Homo sapiens: one gene and its partners. The protein of the gene in region 1 interacts with the protein of each later gene in a pairwise test. Each region holds a gene or a part of one and is shown in the gene's direction. Other genes may lie near its edges.

Evidence for each region.
Region 2: the proteins of GMCL2 (region 1) and BHLHE40 interact in binary tests that used the Homo sapiens proteins (3 or more experiments, as listed by UniProt).
Region 3: the proteins of GMCL2 (region 1) and CHCHD3 interact in binary tests that used the Homo sapiens proteins (3 or more experiments, as listed by UniProt).

What each region holds. Positions count from the first base shown.
Region 1 is NC_000005.10:178,185,541-178,189,289, reverse strand, and holds the start of GMCL2 (germ cell-less protein-like 2), read left to right. Parts: upstream 1-1,918; 5' UTR 1,919-1,990; coding exon 1,991-3,571; 3' UTR 3,572-3,749. UniProt on the Homo sapiens protein: Possible function in spermatogenesis. Probable substrate-specific adapter of an E3 ubiquitin-protein ligase complex which mediates the ubiquitination and subsequent proteasomal degradation of target proteins.
Region 2 is NC_000003.12:4,977,198-4,980,946, forward strand, and holds the start of BHLHE40 (class E basic helix-loop-helix protein 40), read left to right. Parts: upstream 1-2,239; 5' UTR 2,240-2,521; coding exon 2,522-2,601; exon of another isoform or gene 2,602-2,764; coding exon 2,765-2,834; intron 2,835-3,103; coding exon 3,104-3,211; intron 3,212-3,749. UniProt on the Homo sapiens protein: Transcriptional repressor involved in the regulation of the circadian rhythm by negatively regulating the activity of the clock genes and clock-controlled genes.
Region 3 is NC_000007.14:132,795,415-132,799,163, reverse strand, and holds part of CHCHD3 (MICOS complex subunit MIC19), read left to right. Parts: intron 1-2,586; coding exon 2,587-2,722; intron 2,723-3,749. UniProt on the Homo sapiens protein: Component of the MICOS complex, a large protein complex of the mitochondrial inner membrane that plays crucial roles in the maintenance of crista junctions, inner membrane architecture, and formation of contact sites to the outer membrane.

The sequences.
Region 1 (3,749 bases):
CTGGCCCCTTAACTCCAACAGAAACTCCAGATTTGCCTTTGGAATCAGGAGGCTGAGCTTCCTGACTTCCCAACTCTGGGATTTAGAACAAGTCACTTTCCCTATTGAAACCTCTGTTTTCTTCATCTGGGAATGGGGCAGGCACTCACATAGGTTTGAGGAAGCCACAGGGCTGGTCACTCTTCACTTGTGTCCAGCGTCCCATCCACCTCCCTGGCATGACCTTGCCTCCCCCTGCAGCACTGGCCCATCTAGGGCTCCCCACACCTACATATCTGGCCCTGATGCCCCTCGCCAATCTCTGCCCCCACTGTACCAAAGATGGAGCCCCGCATGGCGACTCCTACATTGCTCTGGGGGCACAGACCTCCATCTGCCTGGAACAGCCTCCCACCTTCCTCATCAAGTCCTGTTTTCTTACAGGAAGACACCCACATGCCCCAGCCATCCCATCCCCAAGGACTGGCCAAGCAGTTCCAGCACACCCCTCGGGTGGTCTCAGTGTGTGCCCTTCTCCAGTTCCTCCGGGTCTGGGCCTGGGTCAGCCCTTTACACACACGGGGTTCCCAACAAGTAGCTTCCAGATGGCCTGGTGAGGCTGCAGGGCAAATTTCCAGGACCATGCCCCACTTCTCCACTCCATCCCCCAAGGACAAAAGCCTCCTCAATTCCGACATCCTAATCCTGCTGCCCCTGTCTCCACAGATCCTCCCCACAGAGAATCCCTGCCTATCCTGCCCAGGCCCTCTGCTTGCTTCTGCCTTCCCAGACCGGCTGCAGTGATCATTTCACCCAGCCATGGTCACTTTCACCATATTGGCCAGGCTGGTCTTGAACTCCTGACCTCGTGATCTGCCCACCTCGGCCTCCCAAAGTGCTGGGATTACAGGTGTGAGCAGCCACCGTACCTGGCTTGACTTCAAGTCTTTATTCTATTTTATTTTATCTTATTATTTTTTTCTGGAGACGGAATTTCGCTCTTGTCGCCCAGGCTGGAATGTAATGATGCGATCTTGGCTCACTGCAACTTCTGCCTCCTGGGTTCAAGCAGTTCTCCATTTCAGCCTCCCGAAAAGCTGGGATTACAGGCGTGCACCACCACACCTGGCTAAATTTTATATTATTAGTAGAGATGGGGTTTCACCATGTTGGCCAGGCCAGTCTCAAACTCCTGACCTCATGTGATCCACCCACCTTGGCCTCCCAAAGTGCTGGGATTATAGGCATGAGCCACCGAGCCTGGCCTATTTTATTTTATTATTTTATTTTATTTTTGTGCCTGGTCGCAAATTTACATTGGACTGGTTAGGCTCAAGCGTCTGGTACACACATTTTCCTTTGTCAGGTCTTGCAAATAAAACTTTGCTCCTAGGGAAGTGGTCCTTCTAAAACGGACCTTGGTTTTGGCTGCCAGATGAGAATTGCTTCCAGCAATGAAGAATGCTGTCCAAGGAGTTCAAGACCACCCGGAGAAACACAGTGAAACCTTGTCTCTAAAAGAAATTGTTTTAGGCCGGAGGCAGTGGCTCACGCCTGTAGTCCCAGCACTTTGGGAGGCCAAGGTAAGAGGATCACCTGAAGTCAGGAGTTTGAGACCAGCCTGGCCAACATGGGGAAACCCCGCCTCTACTAAAAATACAAAAATTACCCAGGTGTGGTGGCGGGCGCCTGTAATCCCAGCTACTCAGGAGGCTGAGGCAGGAGAATCACTTGAACCCGCGAGGCAGAGGTTGCAGTGAGCCGAGATCGCGCCACTGCACTCCAGCCTGGGCGACAGAGCAAGACTCCGTCTCAAAAAAAAAAAAAAAAAAAAATTGTGGGGGAGGGGTGCGGAGGTTGGAGGCGGCAGTGTCCGCTGCAACGGTTGGGGCTGCGCGTGAGAAGGTGGCGGTGTAGGCACCTGTGCTCGGGGAAGGCTGGCGGCGGCGGCCGGGCCATGGCCAGAGACCCCCTCCTCTGGGCTCCCTGAAGTCCTGGGGAGCCGTGACCCATGGGATCGTCGAGCAGCCGGGTGCTGGGCCAGCCGAGGCGAGCCCTTGCCCAGCAGGAACAGGGTGCCAGGGCCAGGGGCTCGGCCCGGAGGCCGGACACTGGAGACGATGCGGCGAGCTACGGCTTCTGTTACTGCCCGGGCAGTCACAAGCGCAAGCGGAGCAGCGGGGCCTGCCGCTACTGTGACCCGGACTCGCACAGGGAGGAGCATGAGGAGGAGGGGGACAAGCAGCAGCCGCTCCTCAACACCCCTGCAAGGAAAAAATTAAGGAGTACATCCAAATATATTTATCAAACATTATTTTTGAATGGTGAAAACAGTGACATTAAGATTTGTGCTCTAGGAGAAGAATGGCGATTACACAAAATATATTTATGTCAATCTGGCTACTTTTCTAGTATGTTCAGTGGTTCTTGGAAAGAATCCAGCATGAATATTATTGAACTGGAGATTCCTGACCAGAACATTGATGTAGACGCACTGCAGGTTGCGTTTGGTTCACTGTATCGAGATGATGTCTTGATAAAACCCAGTCGAGTTGTTGCCATTTTGGCAGCAGCTTGTATGCTGCAGCTGGATGGTTTAATACAGCAGTGTGGTGAGACAATGAAGGAAACAATTAATGTGAAAACTGTATGCGGTTATTACACATCAGTAGAGATCTATGGATTAGATTCTGTAAAGAAAAAGTGCCTTGAATGGCTTCTAAACAATTTGATGACTCACCAGAATGTTAAACTTTTTAAAGAACTCGGTATAAATGTCATGAAACAGCTCATTGGTTCCTCTAACTTATTTGTGATGCAAGTGGAGATGGATGTATACACCACTCTAAAAAAGTGGATGTTCCTTCAACTTGTGCCTTCTTGGAATGGATCTTTAAAACAGCTTTTGACAGAAACAGATGTCTGGTTTTCTAAACAGAGAAAAGATTTTGAAGGTATGGCCTTTCTTGAAACTGAACCAGGAAAACCATTTGTGTCAGTATTCAGACATTTAAGGTTACAATATATTATCAGTGACCTAGCTTCTGCAAGAATTATTGAACAAGATGGTATAGTACCTTCAGAATGGCTGTCTTCTGTGTATAAACAGCAGTGGTTTGCTATGCTGCGGGCAGAACAAGACCGTGAGGTAGGGCCTCAAGAAATCAATAAAGAAGACCTAGAGGGAAATAGCATGAGGTGTGGTAGAAAGCTTGCCAAAGATGGTGAATACTACTGGTGTTGGACGGGTTTTAACTTCGGCTTTGACCTACTTGTAATTTACACCAATGGATACATCATTTTCAAACGCAATACACTGAATCAGCCACGCAGCGGGTCTGTCAGTTTACGGCCTCGAAGGAGCATAGCATTTAGATTACGCTTGGCTTCTTTTGATAGTAGTGGAAAACTAGTATGTAGTAGAACAACTGGCTATCAAATACTTATACTTAAAAAGGATCAGGAACAAGTGGTGATGAACTTGGACAGCAGGTTTCTGACCTTCCCTTTATATATCTGCTGTAACTTCTTGTATATATCACCAGAAAAAGGAATTGAAAATAATCGTCACCCAGAAAATCCAGAAAACTGAAGATCTCATCAGTTGGAAACAGTAGCACTTTGAAAACTTTCAGGCCAGCTTTAATTTAATGGCCCTACTGATATTCACATCTAAGTTGACTAACAATGACAAAGGCCTTATGAACTGTACGGACAATACAGAAGACTATTCTTATCCTCATTGCATTTCTATGCATATACAAAAAAAA
Region 2 (3,749 bases), on another chromosome or scaffold:
TTCTGGCAGGGAGGGATCTCTGAGCCCCGAAGTGAGGTCATGCCAGTTAGCAGTTAGAAAAGGAGGCATTTCTCACACTTGCTAAAGAGTTTGACGCTTGTGAAATATAAACAGGAAGCGGGAGCTCTCCAAGGCGACCTGAAGGAAATACACTGCCAGTTTGGTCAACTTGTGAATGCCAGTTCTCTAGGTCGTCAAGGGCACTGCCAGTTAAGACTGATCCCCTAACTGCACCCGAGGCTACTACTCTTCGCCCAGTCTCGGCAGTGACCCCATTTTTTTTTCAATCCTTCCCACAGCCAGGTCACTCAGCAGTGGGGTGACTGACCCGAAGCGCAGTGGGAAGGGCTTACAGTCATCTCTCAACTCCCCGAACTTGCAGGGCAGGGGAGCGCAGAGGTCAGTGAAATCCCCAGCCAGGCCTTATTTTAGTCATGAGTTTCCACTGGCTCCCTCCTCTGACTGTATCAGCGCTGCTCACACCGCGGGATTGGAGTTTCAGCTGTTTTCCCTGCTCCCGGCTGAGTGAGAAGGTCACAGAGCCCGGACCTTTCCGGGGGAGGTGGGTGGGGCCCTCCGGCAGCCTAAGTGAGATTGCAGAGATCTGGGGCCGCTGGAGGAGGTCCTTCCGCCCCGGGCTTGGGGCTTTGGGTTAGCTTCTCCCCCGCTTCTCTACCTAGGCATCTCGGTTACAATGAAATTAAAAACAAAACACAAAGCAACACAAGTTCTCATTGTTTTTCCCCTCTGTCAGCCAGTGGCCTCGATACAATTTTCCCAGGGCTGCCTTTCCTTTATTGCTCAATTTAACCTCTTCCTAGAGGTTCTGCAAGTTCAAGGGCAGGATCCGTGTCGGATTCATCAACTAGTGCAGCGCCTAGTGCAGAGCAGGGGGCTCAAGAAATACGTGTCGACCGCATGATTGCTAAGATTTCCCTGTAACAGGCGGTTTTTTTTTCTTGTCTCTCTCATCCCTCCTGCCCTGGGTGCAGACCGCGAACAGCGCCGCCGAACTTCCCAACAGGCAGGGAGAGGGCCGATCCGGGCTGGCACGCCACGTCCCCGGGGTCTCAGTCCCTGGGTCAACGCAGAGAGGCTCGCGGTCCGCGGTGCTACGACCTGAGCCCGGCCACGTGAAGCGTCACGCCCTGCGCTGCTGCAGGGCAGGCGCCGCCGCCGCGGTTGTGTAACGCTGCAGCCGGAGGGGAGGCGACCGGGGCGCCTCTGCTCCGGAGGGGGCAGAGGAGGGAGGGAGCGCCGGGCACAGCGCCCGGTATCTTTCTGCGCTTGACTGGCCGGGAGGAAGGGGGTGACACTGGGGCACCCAGGGGGCTGCGCAACCGGGTGCCCGCCCGCCCGCAGGTTGTGCCCAGGAGCGGAGCTCCTGGGAGCGAGGGGCCCTCGGCTCACACCCTCCACGGTCAGGTGCGCGCGGCGTGCTCGGCGGCAGCCTCAGCTGCCCCTGCGCTTGGCCGTCGGCCCGCTTCCCATGGGGTGACATCCGCCCCGCCCCTCGGTCCCTCCCCAAGGCGGGCAATTCCTGGACGCGAGGGTGAGCAGTGGGGGCAGGGAAGCCAGGACGGAAAGAAACCCCAGCCTCTGGGGAAGGCTGGGGGGCCGGGCGACTCCCTCCGCAGCGCGCCGGTTCCTCCAAGCGGGCCGGGCGGGGGAGGAGGAAGAGGGCTGGGCTGGAGCTAGCAAGGGGATATTCCTCTCCCGGCTTGAGTCAGACGCGGGCGGATCCGTCCTCCCCCGTTCCCTCCCAGGAGACGGGAACTTACTTCATTTCCCTGGGGCAGGTTCGCCCACGTTACCAACTTCTCCCCCTCCCCCAGCACCCCCGTCCCTTCCAGCTTCCGCGCCCCCCACCCAACTGGGCAGGACCCAGGTCGTGCTGCCACCCCCTCTTCGGGGAAAGGCGGCCGCAGCCGCAGACACCTGGGGGCCGGGGCTGGGGGTGGGGGCTCCCTAGCAGCCGCCGGAGCGTTGTCCAACACGTGAGACTCATGTGATGAAGCCGGGGGAGGGCGGGCAGGTCGCTCCTTCCCTCCCCGGCAGTGGCCAGACGTGCCTGGAGTCACAGGGTAGAACACGTAGCTCCAACCCACCCACTCGCTCCCATTTAACCCAGCCCGCAGCCTCTCCATTACTCCTCGGCTTGCCCCCCCACCCCCCCACTCCGCCCTAACCGCCCCCCCCTCACCCGCTCCCTCCCGCCTCCCCGCCCGCCCCACTTCTCATTCACTTGGCTCGCACGGCGCAGACAGACCGCGCAGGGAGCACACACCGCCAGTCTGTGCGCTGAGTCGGAGCCAGAGGCCGCGGGGACACCGGGCCATGCACGCCCCCAACTGAAGCTGCATCTCAAAGCCGAAGATTCCAGCAGCCCAGGGGATTTCAAAGAGCTCAGACTCAGAGGAACATCTGCGGAGAGACCCCCGAAGCCCTCTCCAGGGCAGTCCTCATCCAGACGCTCCGCTAGTGCAGACAGGAGCGCGCAGTGGCCCCGGCTCGCCGCGCCATGGAGCGGATCCCCAGCGCGCAACCACCCCCCGCCTGCCTGCCCAAAGCACCGGGACTGGAGCACGGAGACCTACCAGGGTAAGTTGGCACTCCTTGGCCCTTCAAGCCTCAACTGCAGCCCCATGTTATGCGCCACTCTCAACTTGGAGCAGCTCCGGGCGCACCGGGAGGTTCTTGCCCGGCAGAACGCCTGCAGCCGTGCGCAAGCAGTCACGACCCTTCCTGGTCTCTCTTCCTGCAGGATGTACCCTGCCCACATGTACCAAGTGTACAAGTCAAGACGGGGAATAAAGCGGAGCGAGGACAGCAAGGTAAGCAAGTGCACCCCTAGGGACCCTGCGCTCAGCCCCTCGCGCGCGCTGAGTTTCCAAGAAAAGTTTTCTCGCTTTGAGGTTGGCGAGGGGATGCAGGGTGTGGGCTCGGTGCCTCTTCTGAGTGACTTGGAAAAGAAAGGGCAGACGATGGTTCTGGGTGCTACTCTGCTACTCTGCTCCTCTGCCGGACTGTTGCTGCGGGGCTGGGAGGATAGGCTTCTCATCTCCTTCCCCAAGCGCCCACCGCCTCCCCGTGCGTCTTGCAGGAGACCTACAAATTGCCGCACCGGCTCATCGAGAAAAAGAGACGTGACCGGATTAACGAGTGCATCGCCCAGCTGAAGGATCTCCTACCCGAACATCTCAAACTTACAGTAAGTGAGAAGCTGGCCCCTTTCCAACCCAGTCCTTTGCCCAGAGGGCGGGCGGGTCACTCGCCGCCTGCAGGTTCCGCGGGGAACTGCAGACCAGACTGGCGGATCAGAGCTGGCGGGTGGCTCTGCGGTGGGGTCCTCCTCCACAGTCCTGGCGTTTTCTGGCTGACTCATGCAAATGAGGCGAGAACCACTTGGACCTCTCCAAGTTGGCTCCAACACCAACTGGCCTTCCTTTTCAGGAGTTTAACTTCTGGTGATTTTCAGGATTCCCTAGTTTTTCTCACTTAAAGGAACACGCCAAGAAACACACACATTTTATTTACCCCTTCCCCTCTACCACTCCCCCCACCTTTTTTGTTGTTGTTGTCAAATAAGGGGACTTGCTTTGGTGTGTGATTTTTACGGCCTGTCCTTTCTTGACAGTAGCCCTCGGCTACTTCGCAGCCTTTGGTTGGGGAAATGGAAAAAAAAAAAATAGTATTTCGGGAGGAACAAAAAAGCCTGGATGAGCTGGAAGTTCTGAAAGGGTGTAAGG
Region 3 (3,749 bases), on another chromosome or scaffold:
TCCTGGAGCTGGAGGACAATTATGCTGATTTCCATTCCTCTTCCCCTCTTTCTACCATCAAATCATTAATACAGATTGAAGTGTGTACAAAAAGAATTTCAGAGGATGACTGCACACACACACACACACACACACACACACACACACACACACACAGAACAGATCACCAAACAGGAAATCAAGAGCCCTGGAAGTGAGTAGTATTGATTTGTGGTGATAAAAGTATATTTTGACACATTTCAAATCATAAATAACGCATGGACTTTAACTTGCATGACTAATAGCTCAACCCAGGATACATGCTTATCTACAACTTAAACTACCTCTTTCTAAGGAGTCCATAACATGAGGTGAATTATCCCATCGTGAGTAGACTTTTTAAAGGAAAAAATAAACTGTCTTCTTTATGACATGCAGTGTGTGGATGCTCATTTTTACAGTCTTTTCCCGTATGTTAATGAGGAAGGGCTGCATATCTGGTCAGGGTTGTTCTAGCCTTCCCTCCTCACCTCCTTCCCCCTGCTTTTAAATCTGAGACACATTGGAGACACGATCAGTTGTCAACACTAGGATAGAATGTAACCTTGCTTTCCTATGAGCTATTAGTCATTAGTCATGTATTTGCTAGGTTCAGCTGATCTGATGCTTAATCATATTTTATTCGATATTTATCTAGATGCAGGTCTTGCTATAATTAGTCACTTAGTGGTATCTGTGCCTATACTCTTTGAAGCACGGCTGATTCCTTTTAAATCCTGATGTTCGTGGTAAAGGATTAGGGAAATCTGTGTCCAGAAAAATTCACAGACATCTGAAGTTTGAAATCTTAAAGCATGGAAACTCCTGGGATTCTATTTAATTCTGTTCTTAGGTATTTGACAAAGCAGTAAGGTAATGAATGAAAAAGTAAAAGTGATGTTATAGAAAAATTGTTGAAACATTTTTTTTTCTCTGTATGTCTGTGTTCTTTAGAGGATAGTAGGAAGTCAGGGAACCACCAACATGCTTTGCATTTCTATTCTAGTAAAATATATATTAGCTTAGTGTACTGGATAAAAATAATGAGACAAATCATCACCCAGGCGTTTCCTTATTGATGAGAAATATTCCCCCTGTGTTCTCTAGGGGTTTTGTTTGAACCCATTAAATTTAAAATAATGTGATTTCAAGATTACTATGGAAATAACAAATTTAAATTTCAAAAATAGAAGTGATAAGACTGGAAGCTTCTTGTATTAAGACTAATTTGAAAAAACACGAATTTCAAGATTAAAAGTAGTAATATTGTGCTTTTTTTCTCTGTATGTATTTAATCCTTGCAGTCCAAACTTCCCTGCCGTATTAATCAGAATATTTTACCTTCATTCGTATAACTCATTTGGTTCATTATCATTTTTCAAGCATATATTATAAGGTTTTTGGAAACATTTACATTTGGTCTCACATATTCACAGAAGCAATCTGACTAAAATCTGAGATTTGTAAGTATAAGTAGCAAAATTTTAACCCAGGGGACTTTAAAATGTTTTCTTTGCACCGATTTGTATTCATTCAGTAAATGTATTACATGACTTCTGTAGGGTTCCGATGTCTAATAGCTGAGGTAACAAAGAAAATAAGTCACAGTCCTTGGAATTTACATTCTAGTAAATGTAGGTTGCTAAATTGTATTAGACTATGGTGTAGTCAGTGTCACATGCATGGCAAGAAAAGTGAATACGGGACCAATGGGGTCACCATAAAGGGAATGATAGACTGTACCAGGGTTGGGGGGTGGAGAGCTAATGAAAGCTGACACTTGAGTGAAGTATCAAAGGATGAGTAGGTTTTTTCCAGATATAGAGGCATAGGTGGGAGTTTGGGCGTAGAGCATTTCCAGAAGCAAGAGCAGCATGAGCTTAGACTTGAAGAGAAGTGTAAGAACGAAACCCTGAATTGGGTTTGTCCAGGCTTCAGCTGTGTGCAGGGTTGGGGGGTGAAGGCCACAGAGTAGGCAGGAACCTGGTCAAGAAGGACCAGCCAGCTGGCCTTGTATTTTGTGTAGAAAGTGCTGGGAAAAGAGACCATCTTCGATTTCCTATGGGAAAGAACCCTCTGGAAGGTGTGTGCAGGCAGGAGTAGAGGGTGTCAAAGCTGAGAGACCAGCTGGGAGGTTGTTTCTTGAATTCAGGATGTGGCTCACTTGGAAGCAATGTAACGACAGTGAGTGTGGAGCAGGAGGACCAGGCCGTAGGGATCTCCAACTTTGTGACCAAGTGGATATGGGAATGGAAGAGAGAACTTAGGGCTTCCAAGTTTCTGGCATGTTGATATGGTTTCGGTTTGGAAGGGATGGTTATATTGTCCAGACTAACTCACAGTAGTGTCAATTAGTGGAACTAATTTCTTAGAATTTATTTACCCTTTGTCATTTTTATCATGGGAAAAATTTAGCTATCTTTGAAGTTTAAGGAAAATTCTTTCTCTTAAACCTTTTTCTACATTTGCAACATCTGTGTCTTACTGTGCGTTTTATGTGTTCTTTAACCTTGATTTTTATTCTGAATGAAGACCATTGGTCTCAGCGGTCCCTGTGTTTGTTTTCAGGCGATATGAGTCTCATCCAGTCTGTGCTGATCTGCAGGCCAAAATTCTTCAGTGTTACCGTGAGAACACCCACCAGACCCTCAAATGCTCCGCTCTGGCCACCCAGTATATGCACTGTGTCAATCATGCCAAACAGGTAGGTGTGCCAGCCAGGCCACTGGGGGCACTGGGCAAATTGAAAACTGGATGACCTGGGGCAGTGGTAAGGACTAAATGGGCCACTGTGTGTGAAAAAGCTTTCTAAGCCCTAGTCATCATCATCAAGAATTACTGTAATGAGTTGATTAGGGCATAACTTGTGTCCGATCATTGTCAAAGAGCCCATATCTTCCTTATGTACAACTCATTTACTTGCAGAAAAAAGGATTCTACTACAATTATACTTTTTTCCACTTGCCCTGAACTTTTGTCTTCTAATAATAATGTTCCCAAGGTCATTCCTCATACTTTTAGGCCAATATTTAGAGCTAGCGAAGAGGATACAGATTAAGAGCTGGCACCTTTGGGCCCATAAGCCGTAGGTAGGCAGAGGGCCAGGTTAAAAAAAAAACAAAACACCACCGTTCAGTCACTGTCCAACGCTTCCACCAGTTGATAGAGTTCACTTAGTTGGACAGGGAAAGGGAAACCAGAGATAGCATTTTAAAAAGAATTTCCACTGCTTTTATAGACCATAGCCATATTCTTCTCTTGACCCTTCATATCAGAACAATATGATGTTCACAGGACGTGCATTTTCTCTAATTTATGTACTTTAGAAAGCTAATGATAAACCCTGAAGCAAATTATCAATTCTGGCAGGTCACATAATTGCCTATCATTTAACCAATTTAACAGTTGGATATGGTTGTTCTGAGAGGCAGAAATTGTTGGAAACGTTGATTCCTTCTGCTGACAAACTCCATAGATTTGACCTTCTAACCCAACTAAATCTAGTGTTTAAGTTACACAGCATGCCTTTCTGCAGTCTAATTTGATGTAGTTATAATAATATCACTTGGTGTAAAATTTTTATACTCTACAAATATCCGACGGGAGGGTTAGTATTATCTGGATAGCTGGAAAATAAAGTAACATTAGTGGAAAGAATATAATCAAGATTTATTAAAAGCCTATGTTGTCCTCAAAAGCCTAGTGGCTGGCAGCTTTTTTCTGTTTCTTGC